7 separate regions of the Homo sapiens genome follow, and all the other regions are linked to region 2. Evidence: fine-mapped expression QTL. A gene starts in region 2. Each other region holds a variant in brackets. All regions are shown on one strand. Distances are from middle to middle.

Evidence for each region. PIP is the estimated chance that this variant, and not a neighbour inherited with it, causes the effect. A credible set is the group of variants that fine-mapping cannot tell apart.
Region 1: its variant is the best candidate, but not a certain one, in a credible set for the expression of CORO2A in skeletal muscle (GTEx, PIP 0.76).
Region 3: its variant is the best candidate, but not a certain one, in a credible set for the expression of CORO2A in visceral fat (GTEx, PIP 0.61).
Region 4: its variant is the best candidate, but not a certain one, in a credible set for the expression of CORO2A in whole blood (INTERVAL, PIP 0.61).
Region 5: its variant is the best candidate, but not a certain one, in a credible set for the expression of CORO2A in monocytes (Kim-Hellmuth 2017, PIP 0.73).
Region 6: its variant is the best candidate, but not a certain one, in a credible set for the expression of CORO2A in pancreatic islets (PISA, PIP 0.67).
Region 7: its variant is the best candidate, but not a certain one, in a credible set for the expression of CORO2A in unexposed skin (GTEx, PIP 0.61).

The regions. Positions count from the first base shown.
Region 1 is chr9:98,309,869-98,313,934 of GRCh38, reverse strand. GABBR2 (gamma-aminobutyric acid type B receptor subunit 2) reads left to right here. Exons shown (of 19, transcript NM_005458.8): 14 at 2,730-2,840. Among named protein-coding and RNA genes, the nearest start is that of TBC1D2, 56 kb to the right of the region's middle. The variant T/G (reference allele first, on the strand shown) is at 2,007.
Region 2 is chr9:98,191,009-98,195,074 of GRCh38, reverse strand. CORO2A (coronin 2A) reads left to right here and starts at 2,438. Exons shown (of 12, transcript NM_052820.4): 1 at 2,438-2,516. RefSeq lists silencers at 2,109-2,658, 2,729-2,778 and an enhancer at 2,931-3,585.
Region 3 is chr9:98,282,680-98,286,745 of GRCh38, reverse strand. No RefSeq gene overlaps it. Among named protein-coding and RNA genes, the nearest start is that of TBC1D2, 29 kb to the right of the region's middle. The variant C/G (reference allele first, on the strand shown) is at 2,530.
Region 4 is chr9:98,047,014-98,051,079 of GRCh38, reverse strand. LOC124902227 (a long non-coding RNA gene) reads right to left here. Exons shown (of 2, transcript XR_007061687.1): 2 at 2,877-4,066. It also overlaps a transcript of TRIM14 not described here. Among named protein-coding and RNA genes, the nearest start is that of NANS, 7.7 kb to the left of the region's middle. The variant ATG/G (reference allele first, on the strand shown) is at 1,740.
Region 5 is chr9:98,105,974-98,110,039 of GRCh38, reverse strand. It overlaps TRIM14 (tripartite motif containing 14), which reads left to right. Exons shown (of 6, transcript NM_014788.4): 2 at 56-151. Among named protein-coding and RNA genes, the nearest start is that of TRIM14, 11 kb to the left of the region's middle. The variant G/AG (reference allele first, on the strand shown) is at 1,959.
Region 6 is chr9:98,160,505-98,164,570 of GRCh38, reverse strand. All of the region lies in intron 1 of CORO2A (coronin 2A), which reads left to right. Among named protein-coding and RNA genes, the nearest start is that of CORO2A, 30 kb to the left of the region's middle. RefSeq lists an enhancer at 1,593-2,093. The variant T/C (reference allele first, on the strand shown) is at 1,574.
Region 7 is chr9:98,167,255-98,171,320 of GRCh38, reverse strand. The region is part of intron 1 of CORO2A (coronin 2A); the gene reads left to right. Among named protein-coding and RNA genes, the nearest start is that of CORO2A, 23 kb to the left of the region's middle. RefSeq lists enhancers at 1-240, 2,189-2,378 and a silencer at 1,759-1,908. The variant G/A (reference allele first, on the strand shown) is at 2,490.

The DNA of each region.
Region 1 (4,066 bases), 120 kb before region 2:
CTAGCTCCTCCTGCTTTCACGTGGGAGCACCATCTTTCCCCCACCTCACAGAAGCCCAGGTCCATTGCCTGCTTCAAAGGTCACACCTGGAGAGCAAGACCAAAAAACTAGTTTCTAAACGCTACCCGTCTAAGACCTGCCTTCTACCCCTGGGTCCCATCAAAGTACCTTCTTCCTAGTGATTGACCCTGGGGATGCCCATGCCTTACCCTCAGGAGTGTGGCTTTACCCTGGGCCTCAACAGCACAACTCCATCAGAATATAACATCCTGAACACAGTTATTTGGTGATATACTCCCAGTGGCAAACAGATTGCAAAGGAATCTTCAACTTTACTTAGTAAGTTTGTGCTTGACAGTTGTATGGATGTATCAATTTTGCAACTATTTAGTGTCTAATGTAGGACTGAACAAATCAGTAAATATTTTGATGTTGTTCGAAGGCAGGGATTCCACTGTTGGAGAAGAGTGATGAAAATATGGAATGGGGAAGGCAAGCAAGAACTCGGCAGTGTTGGATCTTATCTAGACAGACAGACAGACAGATTTATTTTTAAAAGAGCTTAGAAGTAGTGACAACTTAGGAACAGTGAGACCATCAAGTGCCTACATCTTGGTTTCTAAACACCATTCTCCACTAAAAAGAACAAGGACTCCTTGGAGAAATGGTTGATTGCAAGGCTGGGAGCAAGAAGAGTTCAAGGAGTGCTGGAATCGTTGTGCCAAGAAGTAAGAAAGTGCTCAAAAAAATTATGGTGATGTGTGGAAAAAACATAGAAGGCAGCATGAAGTTGTTTTCCACTGGCCCAATCTGGAAAAATTTAAGCATCAACATGAATAAGATAGCAAAGGATTATAAGACATTGAATTAAAAAGGAACATACTAGGCCAGACATGGTGGCCCATGCCTGTAATCCCAGCCCTTTGGGAGGCGGAGACGGGCAGATCACCTAAGGTCGGCAGCTCAAGACCGGCCTGGCCAGCATGGTGAAACCCCATCTCTAATAAAAATACAAAAATTAGCCAGGCATGGTGGCGGCCGCCTATAATCCCAGCTACTCAAGAGGCTGAGACATGAGAATTGCTTGAACTCAGGAGGCAGAAGTTGCAGTGAGCGGAGATCACGACATTGCACTCCAGCCTGGGTGACAGAGACTCTATCTCAAAAAAAAGGAACATACTGATATACATAAATAAATGGGAGGAAAGGAAAGCTCTTCTTTGCAGTAGAATGCCAAGTGTTTAAATAGAATGGTAGAGTTAGAAAATCACCATTTTGCAGCTACCAAAGTAATAAATGACTCAGGTAAGAATTATCAATGGTTGCTGAAACCACTGCGTGAACATTTGTGGGGGAACAGGATACTTACACAGTCTCAAAGTAGCTCCCACAGATTATTTATTAATTACAAATGGGGAAATGATACCTTTGAAATGGATGTCTGACAGAAATCATGTCAACCAAGTGATCACAGAGTGCCAACGCGTCCCCCTGATGTGACTCTTACTTATGTAGGATTCCTGACAAGAATACATAAAATCTGAATATAAAACATTCAGGCTAATCCAAATTGAGGGGCTTCTACAAAATAACTGAACTAGATTTTTCAGAAACAATGACATGAAAGACCAAAGTAGGCTGAAGAATTGTTTGAGATTAAAGGAAACCAAAGACACGTAAGTGCAATAATGATGCTGGATTGGATCCTGCATTGGAAAATCCACAGTTGCTTTAAAGGACGTTATTAAGCCAATTGGCAAAATCTGAAAATGGCTAGTATATTAGATAATACACTGTATCAGTGTTAAATTTTCTGAATTTAGTAAGTGTATGTGATTGTGCAAGGGAATCCCTTGTTCTTAGGAAATATATGCTAGGATATTCAGGGGTGAAGGGTCAGGATATCTGCAATTTACTCTCAAATGGTTCAGAAAAAAATAAATGTACAGTAGATGTTGTTTCATTCCCTGGGTGTCTTTTTGTCTTGTTGCCACCATCTGGCCAAT[T/G]ATCTCCCAGAGTTTCCCAATTCAAGTTCCTGCCAGAGAGAATGTGCTCAGGAGGGATCCTCTCCATCAACCCTCATTAGGCAGAGCACTTTGTAGGAGGAAACCTCATAGGTATCTGACAAGCCTCTGGATTGGCTGCCTGGGGTCAGGTGCCCATTCTTTGTCCAGTCAGCTCTGGCCAAGGATGAGTCATGTGGTACACAACCTGGCTGCCATCACTGCTCCAGCAGTGGGGCTGTGGGCAAGAGGGTCTCCTCAGAAGGGTTTGGCAGGCCCCAGGCTTGGGCAGGCCAGTATATCCTATATCTCCAGTTGCACAGAGGTAACCCCAGAGATACCTGAAGACCTCCTGACCTAACTTTATACCTCATTCTCACAACAAATATTAGCGGTACCTGCATTGGGCCAGGTTTTGTGTTAGATCCTAGGGGCAAAGAAGTGACCCAGTTCCTACCCTCAGGAGCTCTGACTCAAATTGGAGAGGCATGAATTATGCAGAGAACTGGAGTGCAGGGTTGAATTGCTACCAACAAACAGAAGGCAGTCAACGCTAGTTGAGGCCTGGGCTCCACACCTTAGGAACACAGAGATGGGGTCCAAATGGCCTGCTGAACAGTGGCATTGGCTATGGCTCACAGGAGGGAAAAGGGCTCTCAGATAAGGACCCAGTTGCTGGAAGAGTGTCCTGTGCCATCCCTGAGTCTCTGTTTTCTCTTTGCACAGCCGGACCCAGCAGGACGGGATATCTCCATCCGCCCTCTCCTGGAGCACTGTGAGAACACCCATATGACCATCTGGCTTGGCATCGTCTATGCCTACAAGGGACTTCTCATGGTAGGTGCAGAGCAGGAGACAGTGTTGAGGGGGGACACTTCTTTGTTGGGCCTCTGTCTCCCAGGGGCCTCCATCAATGTAAAAATAAACAGAGCCTCCATGACTAAGCAGTTACTCTCTGTGGACTCAGTGCCTGCCACATGCTATCTCAGTTCCTGCAGCAACCCTATGAGATAGGTACAAATAACATCCTCATTTCACTGATGACACTGAGGCTTGGTGTCTTGCCCAAGGTCATCTGGCTAGTAAGTGGCAGAGTCAAGATCTTAACCAGAGAGTAACCCAAAAACTCGTGGCTGTGCCTTACAGCTGTCACTGCACTACTCCCAGGAAGAGCAGTCTGCCGACATCCAGTGCATGTTCATGTCCAGCATTTCAGCGGACCCTCTCTTAAGTCCATGGGAGGTGGGCAGGATCATCCCCATTTAATAGATGAGGAGGGTAAGCCTCAGAGAGGTTAAATGATTTGCCAAAAGCTGCCTAGTAACCTCCAAACTGCAAACCCAGCACTCTTTCCACTTTACTCATCTTTTGAAATCAAAGATCATGCTAGGTGCTGTGGCTCATGCTTGCAATGCCAGCACTTTGAGAGGCCGAGGTGGGTGGGTCACCTGAGGTCAGGAGTTCGAGACCAGCCTGACCAACGTGGCAAAACCCCATCTCTACTAAAAATACAAAATTAGCTGGGTGTGGTTGTGGGCGCCTGTAATCCCAATTACTTTGGAGGCTGAGGCAGGAGAATCGCTTGAACCCGGGAGGCAGAGGTTGCGGTGGGCCGAGATCAGGCCATTGCACTCCAGCCTGGGCAACAAGAGCGAAACTCCGTCTCAAAAAAAAAAATCAAAGATCACATACCAAGCCCACGTTGTGAAATTCCAACATTAGGAAGAACTTGAAAGGTCAGCTCCACCATATTTCAGCCCAGGTTGATCCTTGAATCTTCTCTCCTATATCCTATATAAACCATGCTTCCACTGAAAGCCATCTAGTGACACAAAGCTGGTCACTGCGCCCTCCTCAGATCTTTCCACAGGGAGGTTAAGTCACCATTCACCCCCGTTTGACCCCACTTAGAGGCCAAAAATGAAGCCCTCTCTCCAAAAGTCAAATAAACTGGAATCTCTTGTGCTGCTCAAATGCATTCTTACCTGCTGCTGCATCACTGAAGTGTTAGTGATTGATCCTGTGTCCTTTGAGAGGCCATGCCAGAAGGGCATGTAAGAGGA
Region 2 (4,066 bases):
CAGGTTCATTGCAGAGGTCTCCCTCTGGCTTATGGGTCCATATGCCCACAGCCCCCAGAGATGTCTCTGTCAAACCAGCTGTTCCCCAAACAGTCCCAGCCACCAACCACCATGGCACAGGGTAGGAAGATGCAGGTGCAAGCCTTGGAGGGCACATCCATAGGACATCTAGGAAGGCTAGGCCTGGAAGGATGAGTGGGTTTAGACAAGGGAGATGATGATTTGGGAAGAGAACTGCAGACAGAGCAAAGGCTCAGAGATGTCAGAGTGCAAGGCGAGTGGCATTGGCAGAGGTAGAAAGCCACACCAGAGATGCTGGCCCAAGCCCTAAGTGAATTAAGACATTCAAGGCCAGGCGTGGTGGCACGCACCTGTAATCCCAGCACTTTGGGAGGCCAAGGCAGGCAGATTGCTTGAGCCCAGGAGTTGGAGACCAGCCTGAGCAACGTGGCGAAACCCTATCTCTACAAAAAATATAAAAATTGGCTGGGCATGGTGGCACGCACCTGTAGTTCTAGCCATTCGGGAGGCTGAGGTGGGAGGATTGCTTGAGCTTGTGTGGTGGAGGCTGCAGCAAGCTAGGATTGTGCCACTGCACTCCAGCCTGGGCGACAGAACAAAACCATGCAAAAACAACAACAACAAAGTTATTCAGATGCCTTAGCCTGGGAAAGATCATGGTGCCCACCGTCCAGCTGTAATTCAAGTAAAAACCAAACCATGATTATAAAGAATTCCCACAATGTTCTGATTTCATCCATATGTTTGTTTGTTTGTTTGTTTGTTTGAGACAGAGTCCCACTCTGTAGCCCAGGCTGGAGTGCAGTGATGTGATCTCGGCTCACTGCCACCTCCACCTCCTAGGTTCAAGTGATTATCCTGCCTCAGCTTCCCAAGTAGCTGGAACTATAGGCACATGCCACCACGCCCGGCTAATTTTTGTATTTTTAGTAGAGACAGGTTTTCACCATGTTGGCCAGGCTGGTCTTGAACTCTTGAGCTCAAGCAATCCACCTGCCTTGGCCTCCCAAAGTGCTGGGATTACAAGCATGAGCCACTGCGCCCAGCCATCCATATGCTTGATACCCAACTCTTGCACGCTAACACCAGAAGCATGCGTTCAGTCTACCTGCTGGGCAATCCAGCTCCAGAAGGTCTGAATCAGAGCTGTAGGATGGGGTTTTCAGGACCATAGTGCACACTGGGCTTTGGGTGGTAGGCAGGGAGCCCGTCCAGCTCTGGGCAGGGGGGTGGTACAGTGGACTATGGAAGCTGAGTCACATTCTAAGGAGAGAATCAAGAGCTCCCTAAGTACCTTGCCACTCCAAGCCTCAGTTTTCTTATCTGTAAAATGGAGGTAATAATAGTGGCTAAATAAAGCCACTATTATTAGAAGCTTAGAAGAAACGATACAGATATGTAAAGTAGTAACAGTGTACTCTGTTATCCACTCCACAACTATATATTGAGTGGTTACTATGTGCCACGGAGCAGTTCAAGGCCCTCAAGATAACCCGTCTCTACTGAACAAAACCAAGAGCTCTTCACAGACGTGGTGTGGAGTGGAGTGGCTGTTAGCTTAGTAGCCGTGGGAGCCATACTGCCTGGGGTTGCATGACTAGCCGGGTGATCTTAACCTAGGTACTTAATATCTCTGTGCCTCAGCTCTTTTGTGTTAAATAGGTGAGTAATGGTATCAACCTCATAGGCCTGTGTGACAGTGAAGCGAGGTAATGCACAGAAGGCGCTTAGAGGAGTGCGTGGCTCAGTAGTGTTAGGTGGGGGTGGTACCCAAAGGTAGGGCCTCCCCATTGTCTAGTGTCCTCAGGGCTCTCCAGCCAGCGAGGCTGGCAGCAGCGCCCCCGGCTGGTCCCGAGAGAAGGAAGGGCGTCCTCCTCGGTTCCCAGCGGCGCTCCCGGCTCCTCTCCTCCCTGCGGACGGGGAAGCCTCGGTAACCGCTGTAACTGCTCGGGGAAAGGAGCGCTTCCCTGGCCGGGCTCGGCGCGCGCACTGTACCCGGCCGGGATCGTCACATCCAGGGCTCAAACAGCCTTAAGAGGCCGACGCGGTTACTGTCTCCATTTCACAACGGGGGAAACTGAGGCTCCGGGAGGTCAGGTTCCTCATCCCACACCACGCAGCGAGGGCACGGCGCGACGTGGGGCCCGCGGCTCTGCCTGTCCCCAGCCTCCGCCTGGTGGCCGGCAGCCCGCCCCAATCACTGCGGCGTGTGCGCGCCTGTTCCCAGCACGTGTGCGCGCCCCGAGACCCGCCCCGGGGAGCCAGGAGCGCGGTCGGGGTCGTGGGGGCGGAAAAGGGTGGCCAGGGCGGACCCGCGGGGCGGGCAAAAGGGCGGACCTTGGGCCAGGCCCCCGCCCCGCCCTCCGGCCCCGCCCGCCGGGCTGCAGGGGGAGGCGGCGGCGGCTCTGGGCGCCGGGAGTCGGCGGGCGGCGAGGAGCGCGGAGCCGGAGCTGGACGCCGCCGCCGCCACCGCCACCTGCGCGGCAGTCATCAAGGTAGGGCGGCCCTGCGCCGCCGGCCGTGCCTTCCCGGTCTGCGCGATGGGGGCGTCGGGCGGGACGTGCGCGCTGCGGCTGCAGCTCCCGGAGAGGGAGGGATGCGGGGCTCGGAGCGCGGGGGACCTGGCTTTCAGCCCCTTTGCGTGACCTTGCACAAAGCACTGCTCCTCTCCAGGCCTCAGTTTCCCCGTCAGGATAGCTTGCTCATTGGTGGCCCCCTTCTCGCGGGGTTGTTGGGAGGGGCCGCCTCGAGGTCCGGGCTCCCGACGGCTCGCTGCCCTCATGAGCACTGTCTGCACCGCCCACCCCTCCTGCCCGCGGTGAGGGAAGCTCACTCTGGGCGCGGCCAGCCGGTCCCGACAGGCCCCTGCTGTGGCCCGGGTGCTCCATGGGACTCTTGTCGGGACCCTCCCCCTCTTGGCTGCGTTACCTGCTGGGCCTCAGCTTCCTGGTACAGGAAACGGTGGGGTGGGGGGCATCCCCGGGTCCCCGCCAAGCCGGCCTGGGCGTGCATGTGGGGCATCAGCCGGCCCGCCAAGAGGGTTTACTCGTCTGGGGCTGGAGGAGCCCTAGGTTGGAGGTGGCTGGACTCCTGGCGGCACGACTGCCTGGACCAGCCCCACGTAGGCACCTCGATTTAGAGAGTGGTATAGGATAGCTCCTTCCCCTTCCCCACCCGGGCCAGGTGCTGGTGCCTAGCTCTGTGTCCCAGAGCTAGTGTGTGATAAGGTGTGACACACACTAGCTGGTGTGACAAGGGGTGACTGGCGGCCACGCCTGGACCTCAGAGGGGTGACAGTGCCAAGGTGCTGTGTCCGCGTGGCATTAAGGGATGGGGCAGAGCACAGGTCTGAGGGACTGTGGTCCCAGGCTCCCTAGGTAAAGAAGACCTATGGCATCTGGCCCAGCCCCTCTGTAAGATCCCCTCTGGAAGGTCTTGCTGCCCCCTTGCACACTCCTTGTGATAGGAATCTCACTAGTTGTAAACCAAGCTGGAATCTGCTACCCAGTCACTGCCTCTCCTGCTGGTCCTGCTCTGGACACACAAACAACCTCTGACCCTTCCTCCCTCACCCTGGGGCAGTGGTCAGGTCCCTTAAATATGCTCATCTCCAGACCCAGCAGCCCCAGGCCCAGCAGTTTCTCCCATCAGATCCCAGGGAGCCAAGGCAAGAAGAGGGAGCCGAGGTGTCTGCCCTGGAGCAGGCTGTGGGGCCTCCGCTTTCCTGGGGCTTGTTCAGAACCCACCTGTGCATCAGGACTGGAATGTGTCTCCCCAGCTTCCTGCCCCTCCTGGGGACCGTCTGAGAGGTCCGGAGTGAGGAGAGCCGGAGCCCCTCTGCAGGCCTTTCCTGCCCCATGGGGCCTCTTCTCCACCTCCCTGATGCCTGCCCTGTTTGAGGGAGCAGTTTCTAGGAATCACTTCTCAGCCTCCTGGTCTTTCTTGTCCCCTTCATGACCTGCCCTGCACCCAGGGATTTTCTTAACAGCCAAAAGAGGGCAGGAGGCCCCTGGACAGGTAGTGAGCTCTTTGTCATCACAGGTAT
Region 3 (4,066 bases), 92 kb before region 2:
CTGTGCCTGCTGCTCCACACCACTGCTCATACAGCCATCCTACGGGATGTGGGTTGTTCAAGGATGGGAAACAGGCCCAACATGAAGAATACGTACCCAAGGCCACCTAATAAGGCTGTGGCAAAGGCAGGAACAACCAGAATCTTAGCTGGTCTTCCTTCTCTACCTGACCCTGACTCACAGAAATTAGAGCAGAGAAAGGTGGCAGCGGTCATCTCACCCAGCCCCTCCTAGTACAGTTGGGGAAACGGAGGCCCAGCAACTGGAGCCAAGGTCAACCAGAAGGTCACGAGAGGGCCAGCATGGAACCCAGATGTCCTGGTTTTGAGACTTGGCTCTTCTCAGTCCACTTCCCACACCTGTTCTGCCATAGGTAGTACGACCACAGCGGTGAGACGCTGCCCCATAGAGCAATTTCTCAGCTACCACAGACTGAGAAATCTTTACATAGCCTCACTAAATATGGAGTCAGCCAAGACAACATTTGGTCTTTCCTCTTAGCACGTCTGAAAGAGAGAAATGACCCAAGTGTTGAAGATGCTCCTTGTCACATCACTGAAGTGATGCCTTGCTTGGCCATAAGCAGGAAAAGCCCAGACAGCAATGGTGCACTTCATTCCTCTTCATTCTTCTTCAAAAGCATTCTGTCTTCCTTTTGTTATGACTGGGTCATTTCTGAGTTAAAAATAAAAGAGTGTTTCCCAACCTCAAAGACAGGCTTTCTGGAGTTGAAGCCCTCTTAGAAAGCTCTGCCTGGGGGTCTCCTCACCCTGGGGTGTGGAGACAACACTGGGGTCCACTCTGAGGGAAGAAGGGGAGAGGTTTCTGAAAACATTAAGCCTGGGGCACCAGCCGAGGCCTGCCCTTCCAGGCAGTTTCCTGTGCTCAGCAATTTCTTCTCTACAAGGATCAGGATCCACAGGCCTAGAAGCCAGTGCCAGGGAGAGGAGGTGGTACTGGGTAGATTGCAAAAAGCAGACTGGCGGCCATCAGCACCTCTGCCTGTCCAGCAACCACATCTGCCTTCCTGCAGCTCCTCTGAAAGCACTGCCCTACTTTTGGGGGAAAGCAGAAGAGAGAAAATCTGGAGGGCCGCCCTTGCTTCCACTGCTGGACACAGGATTGGCTCAGGGATATGCTCATTAACCAAGCCCAGCCAGTCAAAGCTTTCCCCTGCCGTTTTTAAGAAGTTTGAAATCTTGCCCTCCACGTGGAGAGCAATGAAAAGAGGGAAACTGAGCTCTCATTGCATCATTTAGGCTCAAGGACCAGTGATACCTAAAAATACATCCATCCTTGAGCTTGTAGGTTTTAAACTAATACATACCCTTTTCTGCTTACATAGAGTTGGGTTTCTGTCACTTAGAACCAAAAGAAATCTGTGGGATGCAGAGGGGCTCCACGAGGGGTTCACTGTTGTCTGAAACCCTCCTGGTATTAAGGAGACATGCAGGAGATATTTCCCTGGCCTCACACACGCTGCTGAACAGGGAGGTGGGTAAGGATACCCAAAGGGAAGATGGGGCTAAGAAGCCTCAGGAGGCTAAAGAAGGGTCAAGGAGCCAGGCTGAGGGCCGGAGGGCTGGCACCAAGCTGCGTGCCCAGCACTTGTCACCTGCCTGTCCCCTACCCCCTTAGCTTGTCACCCCTTACTTAGCCTTGAGGAGCAGGGTTTGTAGGTACTGGACAGTAAATGATTAACACACTCTCTGGAAGAGAAAATTGGTCCCTCCTCTGCCTCCACCCCACATCTGAAACCCCTGGCAAATCCCAGGGGCTAACTCCATCATACTTGGTCTGCCCTGTCCGTGGTCCTGAGTGGGTCCTGCCCAGAGATGACAATTCACTGTCTGGTTCCTCCAGGTCCCACCTTCAGGAGCCCCAGACCCTCAATGGGGCATCCACCGAGCCCCTGATCTTTGCCAAGGCCTGTGCTAGGTGCCAGGTGAACAGTGAGTAGGATATAGGTCTCAAGAAGCTCACACACTAATAGGAAGACAGATGCTTAATGAAGAAATGACAATAGCCTGTGATAAGCACCTGCTCCAGAATGGACATGCCTCCTGGGGGCCATAGCCTCCAAACAGGGCTAGTTTTGGGGGTTTGCAACCTATACAGTTTTTAAAGGGCCTCATGTTCGACTTAATGCTCTGCTGTAACTATTTTGAAATTCTAAATAACTTTTGAAAAGGGGGCTTAGAATTTTATTTTATTTTTATTTTTTATTGACTTGTTTATTTTTGAGACAATGTCTCACTCTGTTGTCCAGGCTGGAGTACAGTGGCATGATCACAGCTCACTGCAGCCTTGACCTCCTGGGCTCGAGCAATCCTCCCCACTCAGCCTACGAGTAGCTGGTACTACAGGCATGCAACACCATGCCTGGCTAATTTTTTATTGTTTAGAGAGATGAGATCTCTCTAAAAAATAAAATATTTAAAAAAATTTATGTTGCCCAGGCTGGTCCCGATCACCTGGGCTCAAGCAGTCCTCCCACCTCAGCATCCCAAAGTGCTGGCATTACAGGCA[C/G]GAACCACTGTACGCGGCCCAGGGCTTAGCACTTTAATTTCATACTGGAGCCCACAAATTATGTAGCCAGTCCTATACCTAGACCTGAAAATGAGTAAAAGCTAGCCAGCAAAAGAGAGAAAGAAGAGGAGGGGAGAGGGAGAGAACTAGCAGCCCAATTCTGTAGAATGCATGCACCTGCAGGGGCTGCTGTGGCTGCACCAAGGACAACTAAGTTGTTGTGTGTTAATCACCTGTCATGGAATCCATGTGACTTCAGACTGCTGCGTGATCAGACAGCACGCATCCTGTCTATGTGTGATGATGTGAGTTACATCTGAAAAATCATCAGGCCTGGGTGCACATTTGTACACCTTCACTTACCTGGCTGCATGGCTTTGAATGATTCCACCTCTCTGAGCTTCTGATCCCTCATCTGTAAAATGGACATGATACCTCGCTCAGAGCTTCTCTGACAGTCAAAGAGGCTCATGTAGGGGAAAGTGCCTTGTGAACACTAAGCTTATATTTGTGCTACTCCCAGACAGGAGGAATGTAAAATGAGCAGCTTTAGTAGGTACAATGGGGCAGCCAACAGCCTAGTCTCCTCACAACAGACTGCATCTAGGAAGAATGTCATTAGGGAAAACATCCTGACATGCTGTGTTAGGGGCAAGGTGAGATTCTAAAGACAAGGCTAAAAGAGAGACAGCAGAACAATTCTGTTAGAAAAAGAACTAGAAGTTTGGGGTTAGAAGGAGAGAAAAATGAAAGGAGTGGGTGATAAATAACAGGACAGTGTGGCTAAAAAGCTTTTAAGAATAGGGATGTCAGCCAGGTGCGGTGGCTCATGCCTGTAACCCCAGCACTTTGGGAGGCTGAGGCGGGTGAATCACCTGAGGTCAGGAGTTCGCAACTAGCCTGGCGAACATGATGAAACCCCGTATCTACTAAAAATACAAAAAATTAGCCAGGCATGGTGGCACACGCCTGTAACCCCAGCTACTCAGGAGGCTGAGGTATGAGAATCACTTGAACCTGGGAGGTGGAGGTTGCAGTGAGTCGAGATTGCACCATTGCACTCCAGCCTGGGCAACAAGAGCAAAATTCCTTTTCAAAAAAAAAAGAATAGGGATGTTGAATATTTGATTTTAAGTCATTTGTGTTGCATGAAGTAAAAGCCTCTGTCTTCCCTTTATTTCACTCCCTCCTGCAAAATGTCCCTAAACCTTTGGTTACATTTACTATACAAGTAAAAGCTTTGTGAGTTTTAGTGGAAATAAAGAAAAACAGCAAATTCTATGTTTAGGTAGAGACCAGAGTAAGGATAAAAGAAGCAGCAGCCACAAGATGCAGAGGGAAAAATATGTTCTCTGGCCAAGCGCGGTGGCTCACACCTGTAATCCCAGCACTTTGGGAGGCCAAGGCGGGTGGATCACTTGAGGTCAGAAGTATGAGACCAGCCTGGCCAACATGGTGAAACCCCATCTCTACAAAAATGCAAAAATTAGCTGGGCATGGTGGCACGCACCTGTAGTCCCAGCAACTCTGGAGGCTG
Region 4 (4,066 bases), 140 kb after region 2:
CAACCATGCCGGGTGTGGTGGTTCACTCCTGTAATCCCAGCACTTTGGGAGGCCAAGGCAGGTGGATCACTTGAGGCCAGGAGTTCGAGATCGTCCTGGCCAACATGGTGAAACCCTGTCTCTACTAAAAATACAAAAATTAGCTGGGTGTGGCGGTGCCTGCCTGTAAACCCAGCTACTCAGGAGGCTGAGGCATGAGAATCGCTTAAACCCAGGAGGTGGAGGTTACAGTGAGCCAAGATCATACCACTGCACTCCAGCCTGGGTGACAGAGTAGACTCTGTTTCAAAAAAAGAAATGTGCAACCATGAGGACACCATAACCTATGAATGACACGCTGAGACCAGAAACCCAAAATGATGGTAACTGAGAGTGGCGTTAAGGCCCTAAGTTTTGGTCACCGTCTCACCTAAGTAAGAACTCTCACCTAAGGGAGAATGTGACCAAAAAGGGGGAATATTTAAAAACAAAATTAGGGGAGGCCATTGTTTTGGAATGAGCACTAGGCCCCAAACCAAACCAAAATGGAGTCACTCGTGCTAAATGTGACATAGCAATACTAAGACTTTAAGGAACACATAGGTCCTAGAACAAACCAGGTTTTGTTTTTCTTCTGTAAACAGGAGGTTCCAGCATAAGGAGGTACCCTCTACTCAGTCCTTGTTCCCACCTTGCAAAACTCACTGTTCTACTGTTTCCCAGTGGGTTTCAAGACCAAATAAGTATATTTATGCTGGGATGGTGACATGAATGACTAAAGTTTTGGTCAATCTCTCAAAATTGAGAAAATGATCAAAAGGGGGGAATTGTTAAATCAAGTTTAGCCTAAAGCTGCCTCCTTATATATTTTAAGTTCAGCCTAAAGATTTTCTGTACATCATGAACTACAACAAGTGGAGATGTAAACAGACTGTAGCCCATATCTGTGCCAATCACTGAGTTTGGGCCAATCAAATGTAGCCAATTGTTCCAACTGTGTTAAAATAAGGCAAACGCTGAAATGTAAGCAATCCAGTTGCTTCTAAACCTCATTTGTGTTTTCTGTACTTCACTTTCCTTTTCCTGTCCATAAATCTTCTTCTACCACAAAGCTGCACTGGAGTCTCTATGCCTACCCTGGCTCAAAAAGCTGCTCAATTCGTGACTTGCTCATTGATCAATCAAACATCTTTAAACTTAATTCAGCTGAAGTTTTTCTTTTATCACTGTGGCAGAGGCATTTGAACTAGAGTGACTCCATCTTGAATGGGGGCTAGATAAAATAAGGCTGAAACCTTCTGAGCTGCATTCCCATGAGGTTAAAGCATTCCTAGTTACAAGAAGAGACAGGAGGTTGACACAGGGTACATGTCACAAAGGCCTTGCTGATAAAAAGTAGTGGTAAAGAAGTCAGCCAAAACCCACCAAAACCAAGATGGCAATGAGAGTGACCTCTGGTTGTCCTCACTGTTCATTATACACTAATTATAATGTATTAGCATGCTAAAAGACACTCCCATCAGTGCCATGACACTTTATAAATGTCATAGCAACATAGAAAGTTACCCCATATGGTCTAAAAGGGGGAAGAACTCTCAGTTCCAGAAAGTGCCCACCCCTTTCCTGGAAAACTCATGAATAACCCACCCCTTCTTTAGCATATAATTAGGAAATGATCATTAAAGTGGACAGCCAGCAGCCCTTGGGGGTGCTCTGCATATGGAATAGTCATTCTTTTTTTTTTTTTTTTTTTTTTTTTT[ATG/G]CAGAGTCTCACTCTGTTGCCCAGGCTGGAGTGTAGTGGTGCAATCTTGGCTCACTGCAACCTCCACTTCCCAGGTTCAAGTGATTCTCCTGCCTCAGCCTCCTGAGTAGCTGGGATTACAGGCATGCGCTACCACGCCTGGCTAATTTTTGTATTTTTATTAGAGATGGAGTTTCTCCATGTTGGTCAGGCTGGTCTCAAACTCCTGACCTCAGGTGACCTGCCCACCTTGGCCTCCCAAAGTGCTAGGATTACAGGCATGAGCCACCGCTCCCGGCCAGAATAGCCACTCTTTATTCCTTACTCTTTTTTTTTTTCTGAGACAGAGTCTTGCTCTGTCACCCAGGCTGGGATGCAGTGGCATGATCTCGGCTCTCTGCAACCTCCGCCTCCCAGGTTCAAGCAATTCTCCTGTCTCGCCTCCCAGGTAGCTGGAATTACAGGTGCCCGCCACCACGCCTGGCTAATTTTTGTATTTTTGGTAGAGACTGGGTTTCACCATGTGGCCAGACTGGTCTCGATCTCCTGACCTTGTGATACACCTGCCTCGGCCTCCCACATTGCTGAGATTATAGGCATGAGCTACCATGCCCAGCCTATTCCTTTACTCAAGTTGAACGATTTTCAAAAGCCAAAGAAGCAGTTTATAACCTTAAAGCATTTAGCAAACCTAATATCTGACCTGCCTAAATTAGACTAAATATCTTTATTTTACCAATAATCTTCAAAATTGTTTTTATTTCCCAAAGGTTACTAAAGTCATGTGAACTAAAAGGCATTACAGTTTTTATTTTTCTTTCAAAATATTTAAGTACTTATTTTTCTTGAAGCCAATTAATCAGAGCTCTTTTATATAAACATCACACGCACAACACATATATAACTACACAGACAGACAGATGGAAGAAGATCCAGTAGCTGTAGGATTTTTCATTTGCCAGTTTTTATATTTCTTAATTGGATTACTGGCTTTAGAGTGGAGCCCTTTGTAGAACAGGGTGAGGAAAGCAGTTTCTAGGACCTAATAAGCAGGCACACCTGGAAGGTAAAATGGATTCCCCCAATATTAAGGGTTTCATTTTTAGACCAGATCTCAGATCCCAAAAGGAGAAATGCTATGAACAAGACAGTGCAATGATTTTACCATGCATTTAATTGCAAAGCAATCCAAAGCTAACCAGCCCATTCTGTGACTAGCCCATCATCCATGGGAGTCTTGTCTCTCAGTCAGGGGGTGTGGGTGACATTTCCATACTTTTTTTTTTTTTTTTTTTGAGAAGGAGTCTCACACCATCACCCAGGCTGGAGTGCAGTGGCATGATCTCAGCTCACTGCAACCTCCACCTTCTGGGTTCAAGCGATTCTTCTGCCTCAGCCTCCTGAGTAGCTGGCACTACAGGCATGTGCCACCACGCCCAGCTAATTTTTGTATTTCTAGTAGAGATGAAGTTTCACCACATTGGCCAGGCTGGTCTCAAACTCCTGACCTTGTGATCCACCTGCCTTGACCCCCTCAAAGTGCTGGGATTACAGGTATGAGGAACCACGCCCGGCTCATTTCCATGCTTTCTAGGTGGCCAAGAGCATGCTTCTCTGATCCGAACATGCAAAGAGCTGAGAATTCCCCCATAATTGCCATTAGCTATCCCCAAAACTGTATTTCCTACCTAGCTATTACACACTAAATTTCTCTCATAATGTGAAGTAACTTCTGGTACCCCCAAAACTCAAAAATATCAGATAATGCAATGCAGAAAAGAACAGAGCCTTAGATTTTGAGAGGGCTCTAACTGCTTCCAATTCCTGGGGTTTCATGAGAAAAACAGAGGTTTTTCCCAAAACAGGCTCTGTGGTGCCTCCTGTTTTACCCAAGGAGTCCCAGGCTGTTAGAGCTTGAATATCTTTTTGGGTATCTTTACAGCAGTGGTCCACTCTACTGGTACTAATTTACTGTATTTGTCCATTTTCACACTGCTGATAAAGACACACCCAGGACTGGGTAATTTATAAAGAAAAAGAGGTTTGATGGTCTCACAGTTCCACGTGGTGGGGGAGGCCTCACAGTTATGGTGAAAGGCAAAAGGCACGTCTTACATGGCAGCAGACGAGAGAATGAAAACCAAGCAAAAGGGATTTCCCCTTATAAAAACCATCAAATCTCGTGAGACTTACTCACTACCATGAGAACAGTATGGGGGAAACCGCCACCATGATTTAATTCTCTCCCACTAGGTCCCTCCCACAACACATGGGAATTATGGGAGCTACAATTCAAGATGAGATTTAGTTGGGGACACAACAAAGCCATATCACCCACCCATTGCA
Region 5 (4,066 bases), 85 kb after region 2:
TGTTATTTGGAAAGTGACAGTATTACGACTTTTTTCCTAACTCCCTCCTGTACAGAAACTCAGCCAAGAATGTTTAAAGCAGCTGGCAATCAAGAAGCAGCAGCACATTGACAACATAACCCAGATAGAAGATGCCACCGAGAAGCTCAAGGCAAGTGGACATTTCTTCCTCATACCCATGGAAAGACCCACATTTCCCCCCAGACAAAAGGGACCCCCAATATGGAGCCAATGAAAATAAAAACCAACTGCGAAGGGGCAGATGGTGGGGCCTGGAGCTTCTATAATTCAGGGTTCTTTAGAAAAAGAACACAAAATTACAGACAAAATTAGGTGCAAGACCATGAAGGGGCTCTGCAAGTGAGGGGCCCTGAGCTCCGGTTTCCTTTGCTTTGTGGCAAATCTCTGGTTCCTTAGTGTCATCTGCCAGTCTCTTGGAGGAATTAGCCCATTATCCCAAATTGCCTTAAACAAAGCAAAACACAGCTTAAGGAATATGCAGATATCTCTTTAATTCCACTGCCATGCTGAAAGAAAGCAAGTAGGGTAAGATCTGTTCCACAAATAGGTACTTTCTTCACTCTCCTTTCATAATGATGTTTGAGTGGATTCTCTGTGGATTTTGAATGGGAACTTGAGGCTGATGTTATTCTAAGTAACCATTTTGACATGACAAAGTTGTTGTGTTTTTAGGGCCTCAGGGGCTGGTCATTTCCCCTTGCATCCTCCGTTGCTCCCTCCCCCTTTCATCCTGTTGCTCCCTCCCCCTTTCATCCTCTGTTGCTCCCTCCTCCCCTTCATCCTCTGTTGCTCCCTCCTCGCAGTGAGGGCTGGGGTGGGAGGCCCTCCTGGGGCCTGCCCCACTGAGAGCTGGAAGAACCCCTGCTCTGCACTTTGGGAGGCCAAGGCTGGAGGATCACTTGAGCCCAGGAGTTCGAGACCAGCCTAGGCAAGATAGTGAGACTCCCATCTCTACTAAAAATAAATAAAATAAAATAGCCAGGTATGGTGGTGCACGCCTGCAGTCCCAGCTGTTTCAGAGGCTGGGGTGGGAAGATCGCTTGAGCCCTGAAGCTTGAGACTGCAGTGACCTAGGATCACGTCACTGTGCTCCAGCCTGGGCAACAGAGCAAAACCCTATCAAAAAAAAAAAAAAAAAAGGAACCCCTGACTGATTCACACAAGAGGAGGAGTGGCTGTGACCATGGGAGAAGCTGGCACCCAGTTTCTCCTGTGACCAGGCCAGGCCACAGAATTGGCTCCCACATTTGCCTAAAGTCCATTCTCTGTCAGTTGTCTTCATGACAGTTTGCCAGTACCCTGAAGACGTTTGTAGTTCACACCTGTGGTCCCAGCTTAATAGTGTCTCTCATGTCTTCACAAGCAGAACTCTGGGCTAGGAGATAGACAGTACCAAAGGATTTAGAAAGTGAAAGCTGTCACGTTGGAAGGGTTGTGGGGAGGCCTGAAGATCAGGCTCCCTGTCTGCAAATGCCTGAGCAGATATGGTTTGAGGGCCCCCAAGAATTAGGACCCATGTGGAGGGTCTAGTCTTCCCCAGGCCACACTGGAAGAATTGTCTTGGGCCACACATAAAATACACTAACACTAACAATAGCTGATGAGCTAAAGAAAAAAAAAATATCCAAAAAACTCATGATGTTTTAAGAAAGTTTACAAATTTGTGTTGTGCCACATTCAAAGCTGTGCTGGGCCACATGCGGCCCACAGGCTGCAGGTTGGATAAGCTTGGCCTGAGGGATGGCCTGGGGTAGGTTTCAGCTTAATCTAAGCCATGGTTCTCTTTCTCTTGACCCTTTCCCCAACTAACTTTTTAACTTTTTATAGATTTAGAGGAAGTTGCAAAAATAGTAGAGTTTTGTGTACCTTGACCTAGTTTGCCCCAAGGGTTACTTGTTACATAACTATAGCACACTATCCAAAAAAAAAAAAAAAAA[G/AG]GATGGTATGTGTGTATAGTTTTATGTCAACTTATCACATGTATAGATTTGCATAACCACCACTGCAATCAAAATGCAGGCTATTCCATCACTGCCAAGTTCTACCTTCTTCTAGGCCAAGCGAGGTGGCTCATGCCTGTAATCCCAGCACTTTGGTAGGCTGAGGCAGGCAGATCATTTGAGGTCAGGAGTTCGAGACCAGCCTGGCCATCATGTTGAAACCCCATCTCTACTAAAAAAAAAATACAAAAAAATGCCGGGAATGGTGGCGCCTATAATCCAAGCTACTCAGAAGGCTGAGGTGGGAGGATCGCTTGAACCCAGGAGGTGGAGGTTGCAGTGAGCCAAGATCATGCCTCTGTACTCCAGCCTGGATGACAGAGCGAGACTCCATCTTAAAAAAAAAAATCTACCTACACCTTTATGGTCACCTCCCTACCCACTGTATCCCCCCGACCAATCCCTAACCCCTGGCAATTATTAATTTGTTTGATAATTGTTGCATTTGAAAATGTCATAAAAATGGAAAATGATCTTTTGAGGTATTTTTCACTCAGCAGAATGCCCTTGGGATCCACCCAAGTTGTTGCAAGAACCACTAGTTCATTCCCATGTATTGCTGAGTAGTAATATTCCACTAATCCGATAGTATGCATGTACCATAGAGGTTTTTTAAACCATTTACCTATTGTAGGCTGTTTGGTACAGTCTAGGGCTATTGCAAATAAGGCTTCTTTGAACAGTTGTGTCCAGGTTTCTGTGCGGACATAAGTTTTCATTTATCTGTGTTAGATGCCCAGGAATGCTATTGCTGGGTCATATGGCACCTGCCTGTTTTGTTTTTTAAGAAACTGCCAAACGCTTTTCCAGAGTGGTTGTGCCATTTTACATTCCCACCAGCAATGCATGAGAGTGTGTTTTTCTGCATCTTTGACAACATTTGGTATTGTCACAAGTTTTTATCTTAACTTGCATAATCTGTGTGTAGTGATACCTTATCATGGTTTTAATTTGCATTCCCCCAGTAGCTAGTGATGTTGAGTATCTATTCATGTGCTTGTTTACCATCTCTACAAAAAACTAAAAAATCATCCAGGTATGGTGGCACATGCCTGTAGTCCCAGCTACTCAGGAGGCTGAGGTGGGAGGATCGCTTGAGCTCAGAAGGTTGAAATTGCAGTGAGCAATGACCATACCCACTACACTCCAGCCTGGGTGACAGAGCGAGACCATGTCTCAAAAAAAAAAAAAAAAAAGAAGAAAGAAAAGAAAAAGAGTTTGTTGGGATTTTGATAGGAATTGTGTTAAACCTGTTTATCAATTTGGGGAGAATTGACATTTTTACTATGTATTCTTCCAATCCATGAATATGGTATATCTTTCCATTTATTTAGATCTCTGTTTTCTTTCATCAGCATTTTGTAATTTTCAGCATACAAATTCTGTATGTTTTGTTAGACTAACACCTAAGTGGCCTTCATAAGGTAATAAGAAAAATGGAATTAATAGTCAGCATTTTAAACCTGAGACATATTTGTATAAAAATTTATAGTTAGGAAATTAGAAAGATATTGCCACCCTATGCCTGCACTCTCATGTGGGGGCAGATGGAGCTGAGCAATGGCTACTCCCATGGCATGGGATCTCCCAGCTCCACCCTGCCCACTTCCTTCAGTGTTAACAACCTGGCTCCTGTGAGCATTTATATTCAATTCCTGATCAAGAAACATATTTTTAAAAATTCATCCATAATCCTGCATCCTGCCACTTCAGGCCAACCATTATTCACATTTTGAGATTTTTTTCCTGTATATGCATATGCTTTTAATGTAGCTTGAGTTATATTGTACATACAATTCTAATATATCCCCAATCTGGAGGTGAGGCATGGTGGTTCATTTTCTTGTGTGGTTTGTCACGTGTATTATCATCTTGTCTCCAGTAGCTATTTACCATAGATGTCCAATACACTGTGGATTGTGAGTGTGCCCCTTCAGAGCACTGTGACATGAGCATCTTCAGGAGATGCTAAGAGTTTCAGTAGCTCCAGACTCATTTTCATATTATTTTTCAGTTTTGAGTTTCCGTGAATTTGGACTCCAACCCTG
Region 6 (4,066 bases), 31 kb after region 2:
CCTTGTATTTTTTTCTTCCTGCCTGGTGAGAAAGGAAGATGCTGTGGGAAATGGTTACCCAGAGGCCTAGGTTGGCAGCAGGGTGGCCTTATCCTCCATGGGCTTTGATTTCAGAGCCAGATATCCCACTCGCAATGGGTGGATCAGAGACCCCATAAGGATTCTGGATGACTGAAAAGAGCTTTCCCAGCAAGTTTAGGGCCAAGGCCAGGATCAAGATAAACTGTGATGGATAATAGTGGGTCAGGGATTGGAGTCCAGGTGAGGGACCCACCCATGATGAGACGTGTATTGTGTGAATTCTCAGCCTTTGTAGAGCACCTTCACATAGAGCGTTCTTTATCCTGATTAACAGTAACCTCTTTTCGGTTTTTGAAATAACTGGGTAACTTGTGGTTCTAATCTTCCCTAACTGTGGCTGTGACATAAGTGTGGTGGTTCAGACCCTCTCACCAGGCACTTACAGGTGGCAGCTCACTGTGCCCACAAGTCAAATTTTAAGAGAGAGAACAGATAAAACTTCAAATATTATATGTGAAACCACAAATTTACGAAGGGGCACTGGTAGCCAGCAATGCCTACCCATCCTGTTCAAAGACCAAATCAGGTCATTTCATTCTTTCCTTAAAGCCACAAACAGTACAATTAATGAATAATCTATTATAATGGTTTGCACCACGCCCAGTTTGGGTTCAGTTTCAGCCACCCTGCAGCTAACCCTTGTCCTGCAATGAGTTTAGGGCTGGGTAAAGAAGAGGGGCCTTTGGAACAGGCAGGAAACTCTCTCTGTCTCTTTCTCTCTCTCTCTCTCTCTCTCTCTCTCTCTCTCACACACACACATACACACACACACACACACCCCGCATGTATGTCAAGAAAGGAGCATATTGCATAGCAGGAAGAGGGGTCTCTCAACTAGTCCTCAGACTACTTCCCACCTGCACTGCTCATCATAACATGACTTCAGTCTAGTCACTTCCCTTGCACCCCAGTTTTCCCATCATCAAATGGGGGAAAATAATCCCCACCTACCTTGCAGGAGAGTTGTGAGCCACTGTCAGGTGTTAAGAAATAAACTCAAGGCCGGGCACAATGGCTTACGCCTGTAATCTCAGCACTTAGGGAGGCCAAGGTAGGCGGATCACCTGAGGTCAGGAGTTTGTGACCAGCCTGGGCAACTTGGCAAAACCCTGTCTCTACTAAAAATACAAAAATTAGTGGGGCACAGTGGCATGCGCCTGTTATCCCAGCTACTCTGGAGGCTGAGGCAGGAGAATCGCTTGAACCCAGGAGGCAGAGGTTGCAGTGAGCTGAGATAGCACCACTGCACACTCCAGCCTGGGCAACAGAGCGAGACTCCGTCTCAAAGAAAAAAAAAGAAATAAACTCAGTGCGATGCAAAACCCAGAGATGACTACATCCTTTCTGGGAGTTGGGAATTCACAGGCCCCGGAGCCTAATCCCATGGCATCAGGCCCACCAAGCCTGCATGGGATCACAGCAGCAGAATGGATGCCACCTCCCGCCTTGTGCCCAGCAGGCTGTCCCAGAGTGCCACACCTGAGAATGCCTG[T/C]TGTGGCTTTGATGTGGGCCCAGCCAGATGGAATGGGGCAGGATAAGATGAGTGGCCTGGGATAGACCTGGCTCGAATCGGCTGTTCTGGCCCAGCCTGTAGGCGAAGGGCCCGCTACAGTACTCACTTGTGGGCAAGTGCCTGCTTGTAGGGAAAATGAACTCCTGTTCTCTGAATTACTGAGTCATTAAAGTCATGCATGCACGGATACACGCATGCGCTCATGCATGTGTATATACACAGCCTCAGTTAAACATCCAAAGGGATGCACACGTGCATGCACACCCACAAAACGACACAGGCGCTCATGAACTTCCTGATGAATGCAGTTCTTGTGCACACACAGTACGCACACAGGCCAGCACGCATGCACAAGCTTCACCCATGCATATACACATACACTTCCATGCCACATACAAAGGGAGAGGTAGCTGGCCTTGCTAGCGGCTGCCCCACCCCCTACTTGTGAAGTTTCCCTTCATGACAGCAGGTCTGGAAGAATCTTAGCAGTGCAAATAAGAGTTAGGGTGGGGAGAGGATTGGGGGACGGACAGAAGGGCACTGATGTTCACGCTCTTTTGCTGTCAGCTGGCTTCATCCGTGGGGAAGTGGGGAGCCTTTCCAGAGGGTTCTAGCTAGCTTCCTGGGCCTCATTTTCCTTCTCTGTAGAGTGGAAGTGATCATGATCATGACAGTTCCTCTTAGGGACAGAGGTGAGATCCAGGGCTGTGATGGGTCTGAAAGAGCTATTGTCATCATGGGTATTGTCTGTGAGGACCTGGAGCTGCAGGCTCAAAAGCTGCAGGCTTGAGACAGCTGAGTGCAGCCCCCAGGCCTGCTGTTCACTAGCTGTGTGACCCGGTTACTGGCCTGAACACCTACATCTGAACGGGGGAGCAAGGTAGCACCCACTTGCTCTATTCATGCATGGAAAGCATTTGGAATGGCGCCTGGCAGCTTGTAAGCACTCAAAAACCATGACTTCTTATTGCCACAGAGGTGACTGTGAGCTCCAGGGGAGGTGTTGCCCAGGCCTCTCACGGCCTCCTCACTCCTCCTGGATGGAGAGTGGCTCTCAGGAGTTGGGCCAGACCCCAGGTACCCCCTACAGGTGCACAGACAGGCTGTGGAGGGAGACAGCTCAGAGGGTCCGGAAGGGGCCAGGGCTGTTGTTAATGTAAGCTCATGTCGATTTCAGCGACTACCCCAGGCCCGCCACATGCACTCAGGCACCACATTTGGTTGATCCCACCTCCTTGGTATTTCAGTAACATCCTCTCCCCACCATCCCGTCCACTTCACTGCCCTACTCCAGCCCGGGTGACCATTGCCTCTTACCTGCTCTATCCTTTCCTCTGCTCAGGAATCAGAGGAAAACCTGAAAATTAAATCTGGTCCTCTATCTCCCCTGCTTTATTTATTAGAATTATTATTAATTATTTTTGAGACAGATTATCACTCTGTTCCCTAGGATGGAGTGCAGTGGTGCGATCTTGGCTCGCTGCAACCTCCGCATTCCCGGTTCAAGTGATTCTCCTGCCTCAGCCTCCAGAGTGGCTGGGACTACAGGCGCGCGCCACCACACCCGGCTAATTTTTGTATTTTCAGTAGAGACGGGGTTTCACCATGTTGGCCAGGCTGGTCTCGAACTCCTGACCTCAAGTGATCCCCCCACCTCAGCCTCCCAAAGTGCTGGGATTACAGGTGTGAGCCACCGTGCCCAGCTTCTCCCCTCCTTTAATTTCTCCAGTAGCTCCCCACTGCCCTCAGAGTCCGGGTATCTGAGATGATCTGGGTCCTGCCTCCTCCTCTGTGGCCACACCAAGCACAGGCAGCCACTTGCCATCTCCATGGGCCGGACTTGCATAGGCTGTATGAATCAGGATGGGTCGCTGTCCTCCATGACAAATAACCCCTTATCTCATGGTTCACTCTACAAGTGTATTTCTCTGTTGCACTGTATGTCAGTAGAAGAAAGTGCTCTGCTACACATGGTTCCTGAGGGACCAACTACCTTATAGATGCACCATCTGAAACATGCACCCTTCTCATCCCTTTGGCCAAGGACGAGAGTCCTAGAGGGTCACAGGCAGGTCTCATGTGCTTTGGCCTGGAAGTGACACACATCACTGCCTCCCATGATCCACTGGCTAACGGGTCATAGGAGGCAGTGATGTGTGCTATGGCTGCCTGACTGGAAGGGGCCTGGACATGAGGGGAGCAATGGGACGTCTGGTGAGCATCACCAGCTGCCACAGACAGGTGCACTCCCGCCACCCCCAGCAGTTGCTCAAGGTGAGGGAGGAGTGGGGGGGCCTGGAGCGGAGCCTGCTGATTTGCTCCTTGCTTTCCCACCCGAGCCCAGGCCCAAGGTGGCTCCTCCACTGCCACCAAGTTGCCAAGACCCTAGGGAGGTCATTTGTCCTTGTTGTTTCTTTCCAAGGGGACCCCCAGTACCCATTTCTCTCAAAACTCACTATAGAGAAAAGATGT
Region 7 (4,066 bases), 24 kb after region 2:
CAGGACCCCTGGTTGGATGCCCACCCCAGGACCAGAGTTACAGAGCTTCAGCCCTGCCTCGGGCTGACTGTGGGACGCTAAGCAAGGCGCGCTTCCTCTCTGAGCCTCAGTGTCCCTCTCTGTCCAAAGACAGGTCTGAAAGCTCTGTGCCAGAAAGCGGACAGTGAGCAGGGAGTGGAGCTGCCAGATTTTCAGCCTCCTGGAGGTGTCTTGGAAAATCCCCAGTGATCCTTGTCGCTCGAAACTCCCAGATAAGGAGATTGTGGGGCAATAAACCTGTGTGGAGTTTTGGTCAGGGCTTGATTTGGGGGATTAAACAGAAAGAAGCTCTGCTCTGTCTCCAGAAGGTCCAGGCAGGACAAGACCTTCTCAGGACAGCTGATGGCTGGACAGCTCTGTCGCCCTTGTGGTCCTGTGTGTGTCTGGTGTGTGCAAGCTGCAGCACCCTCCACAGACCGTCCTAACAGGTGGGCAGGGCAGGGCTGTTACTATTATATGGATAGAAACTCAGAAAGCGGGAGAGGGGACGAGATTTGCCCAAGGTGACGGAGCGAATTGGTGTCAGAATTAGGATTCTCGGCCAGGCTCAGTGGCTCACACCTGTAATCTCAGCACTTTGGGAGGCCAAGGTGGGCAGATACCTGAGGTCAGGAGTTCAAGATCAGCTTGGCTAACATGGTGAAGCCCCTTTGCTCTACTAAAAATACAAAAATTAGCCAGGCGTGGTGGTGCACACCTGTAATCCCAGCTACTTGGGAGGCTGAGGCAGGAGAATCACTTGAACCCCAGAGGCAGAGGTTGCAGTGAGCCAAGATCACGCCATTGCACTCCAGCCTGGGTGACAGAGCGAGACTCTGTTTCAAAAAAACAACAACAATAAAAGAATTAGGATTCTCCAGCCTGACCAGCACAACTGCTATGACAGTGATGGGCCCAGCCCCTTGGCTCCTACCACCTCAAGGAGGGGTTCAGAAGAAGCTGCTGGTGTGAGTGAAAGCTCAAGCTGGGAGTCAGGTTGGCCTCCCCCTGGGTACCCACAGGGCTGTAGGTGGGCACAGCAGAAGGGGAGAACCATCTAAGGTTGACAGTCCTATGGGTGTGTTGGTGGGGGAGGAAGGAAGAGAAGGAAAAAACACAGTGGGCAGGAAAGGAGACGAGGGGCGCTTCCATGGGCTGAGCTCCTACTTTGTGCCAGACACATGCAAGGTCTTTTACATACATTATTTCATTTAATCTTCTAGATTCTATGAGAAAAATATGAGGATACTCTAATGCTACGGCACAGAGACAAATAGGGGTCCAGGGCTTGAACTTGGTGCCTTCTTTTTCCCTGCCTTTGGCTACCTCCCCAAATGTCAGGATGGGACCTCATGGGATGGAGAGACTGCTCAGTCTGAGAGCTGGGGAGGCTCCTTGGAGGTGGTTCTGTTGGAGCTGGGCCAGGAAGGTGGGGTGACAGGAAGGGGCATTCTAAGAGCCCTGCTAAGAGCCACCCAGCGACTTACCTGAGCTGGCTTAGTTCTAGGCAGAGGGAAGGGGCATGAGCAAAGACAGATTATCTGGGAAAATGATGCTTTTTTATTTTCTTTTTGCTTCTCCCCTTCTCTTTTGAAAAGCACGATGCTTTGAGGGGAGAGCAGACAGACCAGTTTGTCTCAGAGAACAGGTCTGTGGAGATGAGAAGGAGGTCAAAGACTCAGGGGGAACGTAGGGACCTCAAAACCCAAGTCCAGCAGAGGACTTTATCCTGAGGACAGAGGGGACCCGGGGTGCATTTTAAGGGAAAGTGCAGGGCCAGAGTTGGGGGTGGAATATGCGAGGCCTGAGTCCCCAAGAGAGAAGGCTGCTGAGGCCTTGGCATGGCCTGGGAGAGGGGTAGAGAGCAGGTGGGGGCCGTGGGGGCAGGGCTGGGGAGGAGGCAGGGCAGGAGGAGGTGGCCCGCCCAGGGACGGTGGCTCTGGGCAGTGTCAGATGTGGGGAGGAGGCACTCCCTCAGGCCTAATCTCATCAGGAAGAAAGAGGCCTTGTCTTGGTTTGCTCTCTGACTCAATCTGTACTTCCTGTGGGCCTGCAGAGATGCATCTGTGCTGGACCAGAAGGATGGGCGGCGCGGGGGCGGGGAAGGCGGAAACCTGAGGACGGGACTCTTTGCATTTGCTGTTTGCATTTGCCGGCTGCAGACGGCTTCTGCCTCGCTGGTGATGGTCAAGCCCCAAAGGAGGGTCCCTGGATGGCTGCGCTCTGCTTCCCTGCCTGGGCTGTGCTGATGGAGAAAAAGCAAAGGGCTTCTTCCCCCACCCCTCCACCCCGTCCCAGGTCCCTCAGCACTAGGGCAGGGTGGGGCCTTCTGGCCTCCACCTAGGAGAACCCAGCCCGGAGAGATGCACAAATGCACTCTCTTGGATTCTTTTTGATCAGTAGGAATTGTCAGCTAGCCTTCTGCATGTGTGTGTCTGTTTCCCCATCATCATGGTTTGCACCAGGGGTTG[G/A]AACTCTCACGAGCCACTTGGCCCCTGGGAGGCTGCTTCATGCTTTCTGGTTTGGGATTTTTACTTAGATACCCAAAATGCTGGCCTCCCAGCATATACCTGTTGTGTGTTAAATCACATCTCAGTGTCTTGTACACATTGGGACCACAACAATCTTACTAGCCAACGTCTTTTGAACACTAAGTATGCACCAAGCATCACTCTGCATGCTGTGTGTATCACCTTATGTAAGTGTCCAGGAACCCCTGCGAGAGAGTGTGGACCTGTGACTGAACAGCCTGGCTTCAGATTCCAGCCCAGCCACTAACTAGCTATGTGATCTTAGGCAAGTTATATAACCTCTCTGTGCCCTGTTTCCTTATCTTAAAAATGGGGCTATGACAGTACTTGCATGAGGGTTGAGTTGGTATGTGGAACATACTTAACACCTAGTCAGTAATATAGGCGTTAGCTAGTATGTGTATTTGTAGTGCCTGATTTTCCTGGTGAGGAAATAGACACATTAAGTAACTTGCCCAGAGTGGCAGATAGGAAATGATAGGGTGGTGCTGTCCATCAGAACTTTGTTCAGAGATGGGCATGTTGTTTAATTACACTGTTCATTGGGTGTTGCTTGTATGGTTTCATCTGTGATTATGAAGCACATGTGGCTTTTGAGCTCTTGAAATGTTGCTAGTGTGACTAAGGAGCTGGATTTTACACTTTATTTAATTTTAACTTTAATTTAGAAGCCTTGTGGGACTAGAGGTTCTGTGTTGGACAGGGCCGTTTAGAGCCAAGATTAGACCCCTGACAGTCAAGCTCCGGGGCCTGGGCCACCTCTGTGCTCTCCTGCTTCTTTCTTGCTTAAATCTTTTACAATGGAAATTTAAAGACACATACAAAATTAAAGGAAAGATTCAAATGAATCCTCTTGTACCCTCACCCACTTTCAGTAGCCATCAGCAGCCTGTTTCATCTCTACGCACTCATTCCCTCCTCCTCTGTCCAACAACCGCAAGTTATTTTAAGATAAATCCCAGATGTTATATCATTTCATCTGTGAATATTAGGCATCCGTCTCTAAAAGATAAAGACTCTTGTCTAATATAAGCACAGTATTATTACCACACCTAATGACAACAATTCTTTAATACTGTCAGGTGCCCACTCAGCTTTCCCTGATTGCTTCCTGATGCCTTTTTGCAATTGGTTTGTGTGAATCCGGATCCACACAGGATCCACACATTGCACTTCTTGCTGTGCCTCTGATCTCTTAAGTCTCTTCTGAACTGTAATGACCCTTGTCCCTTTTTCCTTGTCATCTTAAAGAAACCGGATCTTTTAAAAAATATATGTATATTTCATTGTACTAAAATACACATAACATAGTATTTGCCATCTAAATCATTCTTAAGTGTACAGTTCAGTGGTATTAAGTACGCTCATACTGCCGTGCAGCCATCACCACCATCCATCTCTAGAACTCTTTATCTTGCAAAACTGAAACTCTATATCCATTAAACAATAACTTTTCATTCCTCCCTACCCTCAGCCCCTGGCAGCCACCATTCTACTTTCTGTCCCTGTGATTTTGC